2 separate regions of the Homo sapiens genome follow, and region 2 is linked to region 1. The links come from fine-mapping of genetic effects on gene expression. A gene starts in region 1. The other region holds a variant in brackets. All regions are shown on one strand. Distances are from middle to middle.

Region 1 (4,382 bases):
AAACACCGAATCTACCAGCACCTTGATCTTGGTTTTCCAGACCCCAAAAATGTGAAAAATAAAACTCTGCGGTTTATCAGCCACCCAGCTTATGGCGTTTTGTTATAGTAGCCCCAACAAACAAAGATAATACTAAAATGATCCAAATTCTAGCCCAGCAGGAACAGAAGATATTGTGAGTCTTGGGTTTTTCTTATTTTCAAAGCATCAAGTGCAAAAACAAACAAATAAACACTTGGATTCAAGGGCTAGGCAGGATGGGATGGGAGTGGGGGGATGGAGAACTTCAGCATCAGCTTCAGTGCTGGAAGCTTGAGTGCTACTCTAGTTACTGCAGCTCTGTACCAATTTACCCAGAGTTTAGTGCTGTAAAACAACCATTTATTATGCTCATGGATTGTGTGGGTGGGAAGTTCGGACAGGGTACAGCGGGACAGCTATTCCTCAGTTGGAAGTCTTGAGGGCTGGGAGCTCAAATCATCGGAAGGCACATTCACTCAGGTCAGTGGCTGACACTGGTGGTCGGCTGGGAGGCCTCGGTTTCTCTCCACGTAGGTTTCTCCAGGTGATCTCTCCAGGTGGGCTTGTTAGGGCTTCCTCCTGGTACAGCAGCTGTGTTCAGAGGACAGGTGTCCTGAGCTATCAAGCCAGGGGGATGTTGTAGCACTCTTTTGGACTGTCCTCAGAAACTGCTCTGGTCACTTCAGCTGCTTTCTAGTTTTCAGAAGCTGGTCGTTAAGGCTAGTAGAGGGCAGGACCCAATTCAACCCCATTTTTTAGAGATGAGGTCTCGCTATGTTGCCCAGGCTGGTCTTGAACTCCCAGGCTCAAGCAATCCATCCACCTTGGCCTCTCAAAGAGCTGGAATTACAGATGTGAAGCACTGCCCCTCCCCCAACCCCATCTGTTATGAAAGGAGGGTCCTTTGACCACAAGTGCCCTGAGAAGTCAGGAGGACTTCCCAGTCTCAGACATTTTTATCTGAGCTGGAGATGGGGACAGCCTCCCACACACAGGACTTGGAAGGCTATGAAGGAAGTAGGGGGCTCTCTTGGGAGGTCATTTCCCTTGGTAGGGACGGTTGTGTGAATGAACTTGGCCTTTAGGGAGAGGAGCCCGACTCTCACCTGAAGCCACCCAACCTGTGCAGATGGCTGAGGAAGCCCTGGACACCACAGGACCGCTAACCCAGGATCTTTGTTGACTTTGCTCCCAGGCCACTGCCCCACACGCAGGCTCTGAACTCCTGGGAGAGGTAGGGAGCCAGCCCGAGGCGTGAGTCAAGAGTGTAAAGTACACCGAGTTCCTTGGCAAGCAGGCTCTTCAAGGGGAAGGTGTCACTCGGGGAACAATGAGAAATGTGTCTTTCCCTCAGCCCCTGATAGAAAAGATAACACCCCTTGAGCACAGCCTTTTCTCATCTGTTCTTGCTCTTGGATGGGGGGCTGCTACTCCGGAGCGGCGAACTGGCGGGCGGGGGTGCGCCTGTGAGTGTGAGCGCGCGTGTGCGTGTGTGCGCGCGCTCTCGTGGCCTTCCGGCAGCTGGCAGCTGTCCCGGCCCCCACCCCACCCTACCCCACCCCACCCAGCCGCGCCACGCCACGCCGCCCCCGCCCCTCGCTGTCCTGGGTGCGCCTCGGGCCGCTGCGCTCCTGGCCAGCTCCCCCCAGCGCCTGGGAGGCGACCCCCAGTGCGCCCGGGTTCAAAGGCCCGGCGAGGCAGTTCCAGCCCCTCTGGGGGGCGGGGAGGCGACGGGGGTGGTGCAGAAGCCAGAAAAGCCCGAGCCACAGCCGGCCAGCTCCGCGCAGGGATGGGCAGCGCGCTCTGAAAGTTTATGACCGCCGCAGCCAACTCCTGGCCGGAGCTGGAGACGCAGCGAGCGATCGGCCGGCCTCGAACCCCCACAGCTGGAGGGCGAGGCCAGCTGTACCCGGCCCCAGTGCCCTTTCGCGGCCACAAGCGGCCGTCCTCCTGGTCCGGTGCTCCGGCGCCTGATCTAGGTTCATGGAGCCGGGGCTGTGGCTCCTTTTCGGGCTCACAGTGACCTCCGCCGCAGGTAAGCGCACGGGGCGGCGCGCCTCTCCTGGCGCGAGCGCACACAAAAGGACCCAGGGCGGGGGACCCGAGGCGCGGAGAAGATGTGCGTCGCGGGGAGCAAACTCTTGCCTGGGCTCTGCACTCGTGAAGACGCCTGGGGGAGGGCTGGGGAGCAGAAGCGGCGCGCAACGACTACCCGCACGGGCTCCGGGAGTTGCAGCCCGCGCACTGGCTGGAGACCTGCTGCCTGGGCCGACTTGGTCAATTTTTCATGAAACTGGGGACTTTTCAGAAAGTTTGCGAACTATTCAGAGGCTGTGCCAAACCCTGGCAAAGTTTGCAGAAAGTATGCAAAATGCATGCAAGTTTTCAACGGGTGCAGATAGCTTGCAAGCTTTTCACAGAGTGTGCAGATAGCTTGGAAACTTTTCAGAAACTGCGCAGAGCTTTGGAAACTTTGCAGACATTTTGCTTGCTCCACCCCCCTCCTCAGGTGTTTGGGGGTGGCGGGTGTTGAGGGGTCTGCACACTCAGCTTAGGAGCCCCTCAATCTGCCTTCTGCAGGATTCGTGCCTTGCTCCCAGTCTGGGGATGCTGGCAGGCGCGGCGTGTCCCAGGCCCCCACTGCAGCCAGATCTGAGGGGGACTGTGAAGAGACTGTGGCTGGCCCTGGCGAGGAGACTGTGGCTGGCCCTGGCGAGGGGACTGTGGCCCCGACAGCACTGCAGGGTCCAAGCCCTGGAAGCCCTGGGCAGGAGCAGGCGGCCGAGGGGGCCCCTGAGCACCACCGATCCAGGCGCTGCACGTGCTTCACCTACAAGGACAAGGAGTGTGTCTACTATTGCCACCTGGACATCATTTGGATCAACACTCCCGAGTAAGTCAGCCTTTTGTGGTGAGGAACGTGGCTCCCGGACCAGGCCCACATCTGCTCATTCCCAGGAGGACCTCACTCCACCCCAGCCCCGCTCAGTTAGCCCAGAGCCTGCCCTGGCACAGCCTTTAGCTCTTGCTGGGGCCTCTTGCCAGCCCAGGTCTCTTCTGCAGGTCAGGGGTGTGACCCACATCCCCCCTGAGGGCCTGGCCCAAGAGAAACTCAATCCTGAGTTTGATCCTGTGGAAGGAGGAGCCCTCCCTCTGAATGAAGTGAACTGACCAGGGGGATTAGATACCTGAGATGTCTCTCTGAGCCTCTTTTCTGAGATAGAGAAAGCCCCGAAAGTTTATCTCATTCCCCAGGGGCCAAGGGGGCTCATACTCACTGTTGACCCCACCAGGATCCAAGGGGTTTAAAATTCCTTGAAAGCATCCTGGTCTCCAGGGAGTCTAAGGGTGGGTTTAGCTGAGCCTGACAGAACCTGCACAGTCCACTCGGGGTAGAATTCCCCTGGGATGGGCTCCCTTCCTTCCTGTGGGCCCCCCTGGATGCCAAGGCAGGGTGAATTCACATCAGCTCGTCCTTGGGCCTTCCACAGGCTGGCTCCAGTCACCCACTGCCATGGTCACAGAGGGCCTTCCCTTCTCTCCTGCAGTCCTTAGAAACTCTCTTACCCTAGGGCCTAGACAGCACCATCCTGAATTTGTCTTGGGGTTCGTCCAGTGGGGAAGTCAGCCTTCTCCTGGGGCCATGTGGAGAGAGTGTGGCTCTGACAGGGGGAGGCTTTGATGACTCCCAGTGTTCAGGGAACCCCTCCTGCAGGCACATCATCTTGCAGGCCATACAGAGGGCTTGACCTTGCCTGGGTCACCAACTCTCTGGCATTGGCTTCCCCATCTCTAAGATCTGGGACTTGGATCAGACACCTCTAAGTTCTGTTCCCTGGGTGTTCATGGGATCTCTTGGGACTCTTGCTTGTACCCTATTAGGGATTCTTAGCTGAGAACTCAGAGATGGTTGTGAATGCAAGCCCCTGGAAGCCTGGAAAGGCACCTTTGCCACCGTGTCCCGGAGCCGTCTTGATTCAGGTTCCTCACGGTCACCTTTATCCCCAAGCCCCATAACCTCTGAGCCCTTGGTAGCAGCTTTCATGGGGCTCACTTACCTACCTTGTGTCATCGGCACCTCAAAAATGAAGTGCAGACGAGGGTAGTAAACCTGAGGGGTGGAATGTCTTTCAGACCAGGGGACAAGACCTCTAATCACATCCATGATAGATCTGGAACATCACCCCACCATGCTTGAAGGGCAGGCAGGGGCTTCACATTGAGCCAGCAGGACACGTGCACAAAGTCCTGCACTCAGAAAGACTCTGGCTCGGCTTAAAGTCCTGCTGTCACTGTCTTGAAATCCTTAATACTTTCTGAACAAAGAGCTGCACATTTGCATTTTCTCCTGGGTCCCATAA
Region 2 (4,382 bases), 87 kb after region 1:
GTGCATTTGCACTGGCTGTGCTCTTTACCGTGCACCTCTGGGCAAGTCCTCCTAGGGCCAATGGGAGGAATCGCAGAGGCTTAGACATGCAGCTGTCTTCACCGCATTCCTTCCTGCTCCCTCTGCTGTGACAGGCTGCTTCCTGCCTGGGAGCTTTGAGTTCAGAAAGCTGTGAGCTGTTTTCAATTCAAGGGGCAGGTTCTCTCTCTCTCTAAGGGTCCCTGTAGACATAGGAGGGAGGGCTGGGGGTGAGTTCAGTAGGGAGGCTTCAGACAAAACCCAAAGAGATGAGCTAGTTTCCTTCCTAGTTAGCCTAGGTGGCCAGCGCCCTGTGGCCACTCGAGCACGTGTCTCTCCTCGTCTGCTCCAGCATGGGGCTGAGACTCCTGTTCCAGGATTGGGGCTGTCGCTGGTCTCGCGTTCCTTCTTCTTGAAACTCAGACAACCCACCCCAACCTGACCTTTGGACGTGCAGGGCATCTGCTCAGAACAGGTTGTCCTCTTAGCCTATTGTTCAACCTTGCCTGGTTGTCCCAAACCTTGAGCCAATCTCTGTAGCCTCAAAGAATCTTAGACTTGGGAGGGAGGGTGGCCCGGAGGACCTCATGTCCTGCATTTGGGGACACAGACACAATCACGGCCTAATTAGACACAACTTGGCTCCCCTTCCATAAAGCTTGTTCCGTTTCACTTCCACCTGTGCTATTTTCATGTTTGTTTCTAAATAAATTCACCTCTTAAAAACATTAAATAGATTTCTTTACGCAGGGTCAGAAGTGGGAAATCATTACTCCTTGCCGTATTTAATAGACGGTAACTGAAAAACAGAAACCAAGTGTTACTAGCTGGAGACCCTTGCCTGAAGAGGATTCCGAGCCTGAGTCCAGCTTTGTTCACAAGGAAGGTTGTGAGTGTTCAGGGCCTGTGGATATATTAGACAGAGATTTTTCCTGTCATCGTAATGCCACGCTTTAGCAAATTCTGACCAAGTGCAGCCCTTCAAACTCCAGGGGGGAAACTGAGACACCAGGTAGAGAAAGGAGAGACACCAGGTCAAAGGGGAGTCTGATAGCTGGGCTCAGACACCAGCTGGAGCTCTTCTCCACACCTTTCCATTTCACTCACCCCCTCCCTCTGTGCCTCAGTTTCCCTCCTCTCCATTAGTCCAGGCTCAATAGCCATACAGGTGGCAGTGGTGGGGATCAGGTGTCAGAGAGGAGCAGCAAGCTCTGTCTCAGCTCCATGGTGGTCATTGGGGGCCCTCCAGTCCTCTCCCTTTGGCTGATGATGGCTGTCTCCACGTGTCAGCCACAGCAACCCTGTCCCCAGACACTAGCTGCTGTTGGAAGAGAAACATGCAAATTCCATCCATTCTCCTCAAACACAAAAGGGAATGTTTAAACTGGAGCCAGTCAGGGGTCGGGGGTGGAGGGAGTGGCCTCCATGAGGAATGCATGATAAATCCTCTCGCCTGGCTTCTTGGCTACATGAACAGTTTTATTTTTTCTCCCAACCCCTCCCAATTGTCCTCATGTTGGGCACTGTTTTGTGTGCCAGAAGGACAGGGAGAAGGACAGATGATGGCCCCACCGTCCATCACAATTCTGGCAACGCAGAAGGCCTAGAGAGGAGGCTCGGGGGGGCTGGGGTGCAGGGCTCCAGGGTTTGTGGGGAAAGCTGTTTGGGAGTCACCACAACATCCATCATCAGCTGTCATGTGCATGCTGTTCCACCTCTCTGTTTATTTTCTGAGCATCTCCAAGAGCCTGGGACACCAGGACAGGGCATGGCGGGAGGAGATGTTTGTGTTTCTCCAAAGAGAGCTTACCGTCTTGTGAGGTAGCAAGAGAAAATGCTGAGGAGGTGCTGATCATCAGGTGGGAGCTCCCTGTTTTGGTTCAAGAGGGGCCATAACAAAGGGTACAGTTAACTGCAGCTGTGTAGTGACAGGATAAGGAAGTTTCCTTCTTTCCTTACAAAGACAGACTAGGCAACAACGCGAGACCCCGTCTCTACAAGAAAATAAAATAAAATAAATTAGCCGGGTGTGGTGGTGCATGCCTGTTGTCACATCTGAGGCTGAGGCAGAAGGATGGCTGGAACCCAGGAGTTCGGGGCTGCAGTGAGCTATAATGGCACCACTGCACTCCAGCCTGGGTGACAGAGTGAGACCCTGTCTCTAAAAAACAAAACGAAGAAAGAAATGCCCAAATGTCTCACCCCCTGCACATTTTTAGAGTGCTTCTCAGTTTTTCACTGCCAACTTGGTGTCCCTAATGGGTCTTGGCAGTAGGGATGGAAAGAAGGGGTGTGGGAAGTCAGTAAGAGAAGATAAATTGCCCCAAAGTTATTAATTCCATTAGTTCATAGGGCCATACCCCTTTCCTTTCTCTCCTGAGCGGCACTTCAGCTCGGAAGGTACAGGTAATCCCTTAAGTGCTTCATCAAAGAGAATAAAGAACATGGAGCAATCACTCCTTGGCTGAGATATTAAAAGAATAAATTCAGGTTGGGTGCACCACCTTGGTTGTCAAAGAGAGGCCATATATCACACCTAAAGGACATTCACCAGTGTCAAAAAGAACGAGCTGTCTTTCTCCCCAAGGGAAAATTGCCTGTGGTGGAGGGAGATTCATTCAACTGGGTTTTTGCAAGTCAGGTCAAGAAGAGGAGGGTGCGACCAGGTTGATCACATCTGAAATATGATTGGCAGACAGCTAAGTGACCTCGGTGAGAAG[G/C]GAAGTAAATTACCTTTTGGTTTCAGGTTTTCTGAAAAGCTGTGAGCCAGGCCCTTTGGCACAAAGTACATGCTAGGGGGTCACCTCCATCATGGGGAGCATCATCTGGGGCTGCTGGGGTGGTCAGGACCCTCACAGGGATGCCCCTACCTGCTCAGAGAGCTGCTGGCTGGCCCAGAATGGGCGCTGGATGCTGCAGATGCAGTTGTCAACACAGATGTCCGTCATCAACGCCTGCCTGCCCTGGAAGCGAGGTTGGCAGGAGCAGCTTAGGGTCTGACCTAGGCCTTCCCTGGGAAACCTACCTTCATCCCAGCTCTGGTCTGCATTTTCCACAACAACCAGAGACCCTTTCCAAACACAGCTGGGAGGCCAGGCATGGTGGCTCATGCCTATAATCCCAGCACTTTGGGAGGCCAAAGTGGGTGGATCCTTTGAGCCCAAGTGTTCGAGAGCAGCCTGGACAACATGGCAAAACCCCATCTCTATAAAAAAATAAATAAATAAAATTAGCTGGGCATGGAGGTGTGTGCCTGTAGTCCCAGCTACTAGGAAGGCTGAAGCAGGAAGATCATTTGAGCCTGGGAGGCGGAGGTTGTAGTGAGCCAAGATTGTGCCATTGCATTCCAGCCTGGGTGACAGAGTGAGATCTGCCTCAAAAATAAAAATAAAAACACGACTGGGCCATATCACGCCTTTGCTTGAAATCTCTCCCATGGCCCGTGACTTTTCTTAGGGATAAAATTCAAGTGAACTGTGAATGAGTTATAACCCCAATACTATACCATTGCCCCAGGAGTCTCCCACAAGACAGAAGACAGCTCTAGGAGTTTCCTGGGGGCTGCTGTACCAAGTGACTACAAACTGAGTGGCTTATAACAAGAGAAATGTGTTCTCTCACCATTCCAGAGGCCAGAAATCCAAAATCAAGGCGTCAACAGGGCCAAGCGCCTTCTGAAGCCTCCAGGAGAGGCTCCTTCCTGGCCTCTTCCAGCTTCTGGTGGCTCTGGGTGTCCTTGGCTGGTGGCCGCATCCTCCCATCTCTGCCTCCATCCTCTGCCTCCGTCCTCACGTGGCCTTCTCCTCTTCTCTGTGTGTCAGGCCTCACTCTGCCTCTCTCCTGCAAGGATGGCTGTCATTGGATTTAGGGTCTGGCAGGATAATCCAGGGTGATCTCATCACAAGATTCTTCACTTAATCACATCCACAAGGACATTTTCCCCATAAGGTCACAATAACAGATTCTAGGGATTATGATGTGGACACATCTTTTGGGGGTTACCATTCAACCCATAATAGTAGCTGGTTGTTTAAAGCTGGGGTCCCCAGGAAGCAGACCCTAGACAAGGCTTTGAGGGCAAGCAGCCGCTCTGGGAGGCAATCCCAGGTAACAGCCCTAAGACCCCGAGAAAGCGGTAGAGAGGAAAGAGTGAAGTAATGCTCTCAGCGCATCACAGCAGCGAGTGACCCAGGCTGGTTCTCACCAGGGGGCTCTGGGAGATGGTGCCGGGCAGGCTGTGGGGCAAGGAAACTGGGGTCTCATTCAACTCCCACCATCCTTGGCTCAGGGCTGCTTCTGGGCATGAGAACTCCATGGTGCCTCCAGTTATGGGAGATCCCAGAGGAGAGTCGCTGGTGTTCACA

Direction of the effects. Positions count from the first base shown, and alleles are read on the strand shown. Sizes are in standard deviations (SD) of each study's normalised expression.
For the expression in esophagus mucosa of the gene that starts at base 1,803 in region 1, C is the low allele of the variant in region 2 and G is the other (moderate effect, 0.43 SD a copy in GTEx).

What was found. PIP is the estimated chance that this variant, and not a neighbour inherited with it, causes the effect.
Region 2: its variant is the best candidate, but not a certain one, in a credible set for the expression of EDN3 in esophagus mucosa (GTEx, PIP 0.54).

What each region holds. Positions count from the first base shown.
Region 1 is chr20:59,298,809-59,303,190 of GRCh38, forward strand. It overlaps EDN3 (endothelin 3), which reads left to right and starts at 1,803. Exons shown (of 5, transcript NM_207034.3): 1 at 1,803-2,056; 2 at 2,602-2,914. The coding sequence starts at 2,005.
Region 2 is chr20:59,385,622-59,390,003 of GRCh38, forward strand. No RefSeq gene overlaps it. Among named protein-coding and RNA genes, the nearest start is that of EDN3, 87 kb to the left of the region's middle. The variant G/C (reference allele first, on the strand shown) is at 2,739.